2 separate regions of the Homo sapiens genome follow, and region 2 is reported to be linked to region 1. The links are microRNA targets in miRTarBase. Many come from high-throughput screens and were not tested one by one. Region 1 holds a microRNA gene; the other region holds the end of a gene's coding sequence.

The links. Region 1 holds the annotated microRNA hsa-miR-1277-5p (AAAUAUAUAUAUAUAUGUACGUAU, at 2,534-2,557, shown strand). A microRNA usually pairs through its seed, bases 2 to 8, with sites in the 3' UTR of a target mRNA and lowers its output. Matches are read on the target gene's strand: a 7mer-m8 pairs with bases 2 to 8, a 7mer-A1 pairs with bases 2 to 7 and ends in A, and an 8mer does both.
Region 2: the mRNA of AKR1D1 is a reported target of hsa-miR-1277-5p. Seed matches in the 3' UTR shown: 7mer-m8 at 2,535-2,541, 7mer-m8 at 2,505-2,511, 7mer-m8 at 2,289-2,295, 7mer-m8 at 1,972-1,978 and 7mer-m8 at 1,853-1,859.

The regions. Positions count from the first base shown.
Region 1 is chrX:118,383,868-118,388,018 of GRCh38, forward strand. MIR1277 (microRNA 1277) reads left to right here and starts at 2,527; the gene lies at 2,527-2,604. It overlaps WDR44 (WD repeat domain 44), which reads left to right. Exons shown (of 20, transcript NM_019045.5): 3 at 3,473-3,547.
Region 2 is chr7:138,116,021-138,120,020 of GRCh38, reverse strand. AKR1D1 (aldo-keto reductase family 1 member D1) reads right to left here. Exons shown (of 9, transcript NM_005989.4): 9 at 1,716-3,401. The coding sequence ends at 3,359. Among named protein-coding and RNA genes, the nearest start is that of MIR4468, 5.7 kb to the left of the region's middle.

The DNA.
Region 1 (4,151 bases):
TTTTTAATTTCTTTTTTTTTTTTTTTTTTTGAGACAGGGTCTTGCTTTCTTCCCCAGGCTGGAATGCAGTGGCATTATCATAGCTCACTGCAGCCTCAGGCTCCTAGGCTCAAGTAGTCCTCCCACAACAACCTCCAAAGTAGCTGGGACTGCAGGCACATACCACCATGCTTGGCTAATTATTATTTTTTTTAGAGGCGAGGTCTCACTGTGTTGCCCAGGCTGGTCTCAAACTCCGGGTTTCAGCCTGTGCCCGGCCTTCTTTCATATAAAACCAGGATCCAATTAAAGCCTATGTAAACTTAAGATGTATGTATTAACTGAAGAAAAAACAGAGCATGCATCATTCAACATTCATTCAGCAAATGATTATTTAGTGCTGGACACTGTTTTAGGTACTGAACAAACTGTAGATAGAACAAACAAGGTCCATCTCTCATGGAGCTTACATTCTAGTGGGACAGGGAAGAGACAAAAAATAAGCAAGTAAATAAGGTCATTTCGAACGATAAGTGCAATGAAGGAAAATAGGATAATGTTTTCCCAGCACCATTTATTGAGTAGGGAAGCCTTTCCCCATTCTTTGTTTTCATCAGGTTTGTCGAAGATCAGATAGTTGTAGGTGTGCGGTCTTATTTCTGTATTCTCTATTCTGTTCTATTGGTCTGTGTGTCTCTTTTTGTACCAGTACCATGCTGTTTGGTAACTGTAGCACTGTAGCATAGTTTGAAGTCGGGTAGCATGATGCCTCCAGCTTTGTTCTTTTTGCTTAGGATTTGCCTTGGCTATTCAGGCTCTTTTTTGGTTCCCTATGAATTTTAAAATAAAATTTCCTAGTTCTGTGAAGAATCTCAGTGGTAGTTTAATAGTAATGGCATTAAGTCTATACATTGCCTTGGGCAGTGTGGCCATTTTAACGATATTGATTCTTCCTATCCATGAGCTTGGAATGTTTTTCCATTTGTTTGTGTCATCTCTGGTTTCTTTGAGCAGTGGTTTGTAGTTCTCCTTTCACCTCCCTAGTTAGCTGTATTCATAGGTATTTTCTTTTCGTGGCAATTGCAAATGATGGGAGTTTATTCCTGATTTGGCTCTCTGCTTGGCTGTTATTAGTGTATAATAATGCTAGTGATTTTTGCACATTTATTTTGTATCCTGAGACTTTGTTGAAGTTGTTTATCAGCTTAAGAATCTTTTGGGCTGAGACTATGGGTTATCTAGATATAAGATCATGTTGTCTGCAAACAGGGATAGTTTGACATCCTCTCCTCAATCCCATTACTGGGTATATACCCAAAGGAATATAAATCATTCTATTATAAAGACACATGCACACACATGTTCATTGCAGCACTATTCACAATAGCAAAGACATGAAATCAACCTAAATGCCCATCAATGATAGACTGGATAAAGAAAATGTAGTACATATACACCATGGAATACTATGCAGCCATAAAAAAGAACGAGATCATGTCCTTTGCAGGGCCATGGATGGAGCTGGAGGCCATTATCCTTAGCAAATCAATGCAGGAACAGAAAACCAAATACTGCATGTTCTCACTTATAGGTGGGAGCTAAATGATGTGGACACATGAACCCATAGAGGGGAACAACACATGTTGAGGCCTATCAGAGGGTGAAGGGTGGGAGGAGGGAGAGGATCAGGAAAAATGACTAATGTGTACTAGGCTTAATACCTGGGTGATGAAATAATCTGTGCAACAAAACCCCATGACACAAGTTTACCTGTGTAACAAATCTGCACATGTACCCCTGAACTTAAAGTTAAAAAAAAAAAGAAAAATAGGATAATGTGATAGAAAGTTAAGGAGTCAGCTAAGGCTATTTTGAGATGGTCAGGGAAGTATTTTCTGATAAAATAGCACTTGAGCTATGACCCTAATGGCAAGGAATCATCCTATTGGCCAGAATGTAATTGTGGGGGAGTGATATGAGAGGGAGATGAGGAGTGTAGAAGATATCAAAAATGTAGGCAGAGGCTATGTCATGTTTAGGCCTTCATGGGCCTTGGTACTGTTTGGATTTTATCTAATACTTAAGAGTCCATGAAACATTTTTTTTTTTCTAGAAGAATCTGTGTAAGATTGGTAGTATTCTCCAAATTCTGGGGGAGGAATTCAGTGCTCGAAGATATTGCAAGTCCTACAGAAATTTCACTGGCACGTTAAATCTTTAACATTTTAATAATCTCTGGAGTAATTTCATTATTGAGCCTATTGTGATCATATCCTGATACTTGTATAAGTGCCACCTAAATAATTAATGTGCCTTGAGTCCTTTATCTGTCTAAAATGGTTATAATGACCTTCCTCTAACAAACTCTGTGATGTGCACAAAGAATTATGGTTTTTTTTCCTCAGTATCAAGAGTAGCATTCAAATTGCTGTGCTTCTATAAATAGACAACTTAAGATTGAGAAGAGTATTGTATTGAGATTTGCAAATATATGATTGTCTTATTTTACCCTAATTTTTTCCAGCAGAAATGCAGTATCCATTTCTAACCTCCCAAATATATATATATATGTACGTATGTGTATATAAATGTATACGTAGATATATATGTATTTTTGGTGGGTTTAATTTTTTTCATCTTTTTTCATAGTTTTTTTAGGGGCTTCATTTAACTTCTGGTTAAGTCTTGATTTCTTTTATCTAAAGCATGTAGAATTTTAAGAAAACTATTCCCTGAATGTGGTTTTCTGTGTTATAAACTTTTGTATTTGTGCATATTTATGGAGCAATGCTTTGGGGAAAATAACAATTTTTATTCAGCCCCTTGCTTAAATCCTTAATCCTTTTTAGCTATAAAAGTACGTAGAAGTTCTTATCGTCCATTACAGTTTTTTAATGTTAAAAAGTTGAGCAAGTTTTCACATTTAAAGGTAAATATCCTATTGCAGAATAATAGAATATTGCTGATGGGTAACTTTCTTATGCAAATTACATTGTCCCATTTGGCATAAAATTTCTGAGCATCTATCAGTATTCAGAAATCTAAGCCCTTTAGGCTGGGCACAGTGGCTCACACCTATAATCCCAGCACTTTGGGAGGCTGAGGTGGGTAGATCACTTGAGGTCAGGAGTTCAAGACCAGCCTGGCCAACAAGGTGAAACTCTGTCTGTACTAAAATTACAAAAATTAGCCAGGTGTGGTGGCACGCGCCTATAATCCCAGCTACTCGGGAGGCTGAGGCAGGAGAATCACTTGAACCCGGGAAGCAGAGGTTGCAGTGAGCCAGGATTGTGCCACTGCACTCCAGCCTGGGTGACAGAGTAAAACTCTGTCTCAAAAAAAAAAAAAAAAAAAAAAGAAGAAGAAGAAATCAAAGCCCTTTAAGGGCCTTTGATTTATTAATGCTACATTTTCTCATTTGTACCCCTTTAAAGCATATTTTTAAAGAAAAGATGTCATCATTTGGTCTCTATTTCTTTTCTTTTTCAAACAGGAAACAGAGAACACTGCATACAAAGTTGGAAATGAGTCCCCTGTACAAGAATTGAAACAAGATGTGTCTAAAAAGGTTGGAAAGATACAATGTCAATATTAGTTTATAGCAGACATCATATTTATATGGTATATTTCAAACAGCTTTTATATTCTTTTAGTATAGCGCTCTGTACATGGCTGATGTTCAGCAAATGTTTCATGAATCTGTCACATTTGTGGTTGAAGACATTTCAGTCTTTTTAGAAGTCCTTTTCATATTCTAATTGGTAATTTATCCTTGAGACAATATTTTGTAAAATGCTTTTATTTTTTGTTCTTGTATTTTTATCAGAATAAGCCCTAACTCTTCTTGAGGTTACTACCAGGAGTTATGGGTATTGAAAAGCTCAGTGCAGCAACATTCTGATGTCTTTAGGAATCAGAAGTTATAAGAAGTCCTTACTCTGATAGTACCTGATACCTTTTAAAAAATTGATGCTATGAAGCTTCAAAGGTTGGTTTACTAGAAGAGACTGAGCACAAGATCAGTATTTTGAAAATGGGCAGTTTACAGTATCAGGATAAAACTCAAGGAGAAAGACAGGATGGTGTGTTTTTATTCATTTATACAAGTTTTAAGTGTTTTCTGTGCCCTAGGCAATGTTCTAGCCAGTGGGTTTCCAGAGGCTAACAAAATG
Region 2 (4,000 bases), not on the chromosome of region 1:
ATTTATGTTTAAGAGATGAGGTCTTGCTTTGTCATCCAAGCTAGAGTGCAGTGGCATGATCATAGCTCACTTCAGCCTCAAACTCCTAGGCTCACACAGTCCTCCTGCCTCAGCCACCCAAATAGCTGGGTGCTATGTGTGTGCACAACCAGCCATGTGTACACAACCATATCCAGCTAATTTTAAAATTTTTGTAGAGATAAGGTATCACTCTGTTGACCAGGGTGGTCTCAAACTCCTGGCCTCAAGTGATCCTTCCACCTTAGCCTCTCAAATAGCTGAGATAACAGGCAAGAGCCACCACACCTGGCCCTATTTTTATATAAGATCACATTCTGAGGTACTGGGGTCTGGGCTTTTTAACATATGAATTTTGAGAGGACACAGTTCAACCCATAACAGATGGGAAGCTTGAGAGGGGTGACAGTGGAGGGAGAAGGAACATGCAGAAGCTTCCATCAGACTGTTGTTCTTTCCTGACCTTCCTACTTTCTGTCTCCAGATCTTTTTCCTCCATCTCTGTTATGACTAAGAGAGGATTTCGCTCCCCCAATTTTTAGAAATACCTTTTCGCTGACAAATGATGGGACTCTTTTCCAATGTCTGTCTTTTAAAAATGCTTCGATAGGTGTTGTTTCCATTCTCACCTCTACACTAATACCCTCAAAGTATTTTTAAGGACTTTCACAACAGGGACCAGGACTCAAGTTTCTGCTCTTTCATAATGGTACCACCTTTTTCTTCTTCCTTCCTCCCTCCGTCACTCCTTCCATACCTCCCTCTCTGCCTGCCTCCCTCCCTCCCTCCCTTCCTTCCTTCCTTCCCTCCTTCCTTCCTTCCTTCCTTCTTTCTTTCCTTCCTTCTTTTTCTCTTTTTTTGAGACGGAATCTTGCTCTGTCGCCCAGGCTGGAGTGTAGTGGCATGATCTCGGCTCACTGCAATCTCCGCCTCCTGAGTTCGCGCCATTCTCCTGCCTCAGCCTCCCGAGTGGCTGGGACTACAGGCGCCCGCTACCATGCCCGGCTAATTTTTTGTATTTTTAGTAGAGACAGGGTTTCAACATGTTAGCCAGGATGGCCTCGATCTCCTGACCTCTTGATCCGCCCGCCTCGGCCTCTCAAAGTGCTGGGATTACAGGCGTGAGCCACCGCGCCCGGCTCCCTCCTTCTTTTTCTTTCCCCTCCCTCCCTCCCTCCCTCCCTTCCTTCCTTCCTTTTTCTTTCCCCTCCCTCCCTTCCTTCCTTTCTTTTTTCCTTCCTTCCTTCCTTTTTCCCCTTCCTTCCTTCAATCTTTCCTTTTTTTTGAGACAGAATCTCACTCTGTCACCCAGGCTCGAGTGCAGTGGCACAATCTTGGCTCACTGCAACCTCTGCCTCCCCAACCCAAGTGATCCTCCCATAGCAGCCTCCTGAGTAGCTGGGACTACAGGTGTGTGCCACCATTCCTGGCTAATTTTTGTATTTTTTTTTTTTTTTTTTTGGTAGAGATGGGGTTTTGCCATGTTGTTCCAGGCTGGTCTTGAACTCCTGGGTTCATGCCATCCACCTGCCTTGGCCTCTCAAATTGCTGGTATTATAGGCATGAGCCACCACATCCCCTTTTCTTTCCTCTCTTCCCAGTGCTAAATGTACAGCAGGATTAAATCAAAGGCCTTTTAACTGGCTTCAGATGATTCTTCCCCTGCCCCAACCTTAGAAACAGAATGGAGATTCATGTGATGCAACAAATCATTATACTTTATTATTTCTTGTGAACAAAATATTTTCCAGAGGTCAGTGTTATAAGTAATAATATTGGAATCAGTGAAAACAATCAGTATAGACCAAATTTTTTAAAATGATAATTTCTCAAAAATATATGTCTTGAGGTCATTGAACATTATCTATAAGCAACTGATCTTGGGAAAACATAATTTTTGAAGAACTCTCTCATCCTATGACAGTATGACAGTGACCTAATGTGAATGAATAAAATATATTTCTTTTCTTTTTTTTTTGTTTTTGAGACGGAGTCTCGCTCTTTCACCCAGGCCGGACTGCAGTGGCGCTATCTCGGCTCACTGCAAGCTCCTCCTCCCGGGTTCATGCCATTCTTCTGCCTCAGCCTCCTGAGTAGCTGGGATTACAGGCCCCCGCCACCGCGCCTGGCTAATTTTTTGTATTTTTAGTAGAGACGGGGTTTCACCTTGTTAGCCAAGATGGTCTCGATCTCCTGACCTCCTGATCTGCCCACCTTGGCCTCCCAAAGTGCTGGGATTATAGGCATGAGCCACCGCACCCGGCCAATAAAATATATTTCTGTAGTTGAATTGAAAATAGATATATCTCTATTGCTGAATTCTAATAATCTTATTCACTCTTTAAATTGTACATACAGGAAAATTACCAGAGTTCTTTTGAACTTGCTTTCTCAAAATTCATATAAAATTCTCAAAATTCATATAAGCTATCCAAGTAACACTATTAAAGTCTTAAGTACAATAATCTTATAAAGCACCTTGTTTCAATATATCTCCCAAGTTAAGAAGAAAAGCCAATATATGGCTTCTCTTTTACTATTTTACAAGGCAGGGTTTTATTTGTATATGTTGGTTGTTTCAAGCCTTTTCACGTAATAGTGGTTCTATAATCAATGTAGGCAAGATTGACAGTAAGATGTGTAAGTATGGATCAGCAGCCATGTTGAGACTCAGGCCCTTTAAGGATGCAAGAGAGATCCAGTTAAGTTTTCATTCCTCAGGTTGGATAAAAACTAAACATACATACATTGGAGGGAAACAAACACCAACATTATGATGGCTTTGTTGACCACTGTGGTGTTTAGCTCTATTTTAAGACTTTTCTACATGTAGCCCTCTCAACTCAAGGTGCAGCAAATCACTTCCTTGTTAATAATGTGTGTGTGGATCTTATCTTGGCTGTGTCTGTTTTGTAACCAATGGTCCAAAGCCTCAAGGCCACTGCCAGCACACTGCCACATGCACTTCGTTGTCCTGTTAACCCTTAAAGAACTCAGATTACCAACGCTACTACCCAGATTCATAAATTACTTGTTGTCATATGTTGCCTTTGATGTCTTTTCTGAAGTGTAATTTTTTTCTGTCTGGAATCTAGAAGATACTGATCTGAAAAAATTAGTTGATAATTTCCTAAGAGTTATTTCAACAGATTTTAATATTTTTACTTCAATGTGACTGAGTCAAAGTCATTTACACTGCACAAACATTAAACATGTTTCCATCATTATTTCTTCTCAGGATGGTAAAACCCTCTCTCTTCATTTTCACATCTAGGGGACTACCCATTGCACCGTCTTGGCACTCGTGGGAGTGAAAAATCTGTTCAGGAACTCCCTGCAGTCAGTATTCATCATGAAATGGGTATTCAGGATGATCGCGCCACCTGCCAAAACAATTCCCCCACAGAAAAAAGTTCACTCAAAAATTGCACAGCTGTATGTTTCAATAGCATCCTTTGAGAATTTCACTGACCACTACCCCTCTCTCCTATTCATTCCTCTGCTGTTTCTTACCTACTTTCCTCTTCTGTTTTCCCTCAAGCCAGCACCTTTTCCTGAAGCTCTGGACAGCCTCCTGAATGTGAGTGTGTTGAGGGAAGGTTGGTGGCCACCTTATCAACATTTTACTCAGAACAGAATCCCCAGTGGTGAATCATGTCTTAGGCATGTCATGTGCACATGCCTCTTCCCTACTCCTTCCCCCTTTCTGTTCCCTTGACGCTGGCTGCCTCCTTCTCCAATCCACTACATGGGCATTTCTCTTCAAAACTCTTATTACCAGTGTCACCCTCTGCTGATTAGCATTTTTTTCTTCTTTTTTTTACAGATGGAATCTCACTCTGTCACTCAGGTTGGAGTGCAGTGGCATGATCATAGCTCACTGCAGCCTCAAACTCCTGGGCTCCCAAGCAAGCCTCCTGCCTCAGCCTCCCAAGTAGCAGGGATTATAGGTATGTGCCACCACGGTTGCCCAAGCTGAACT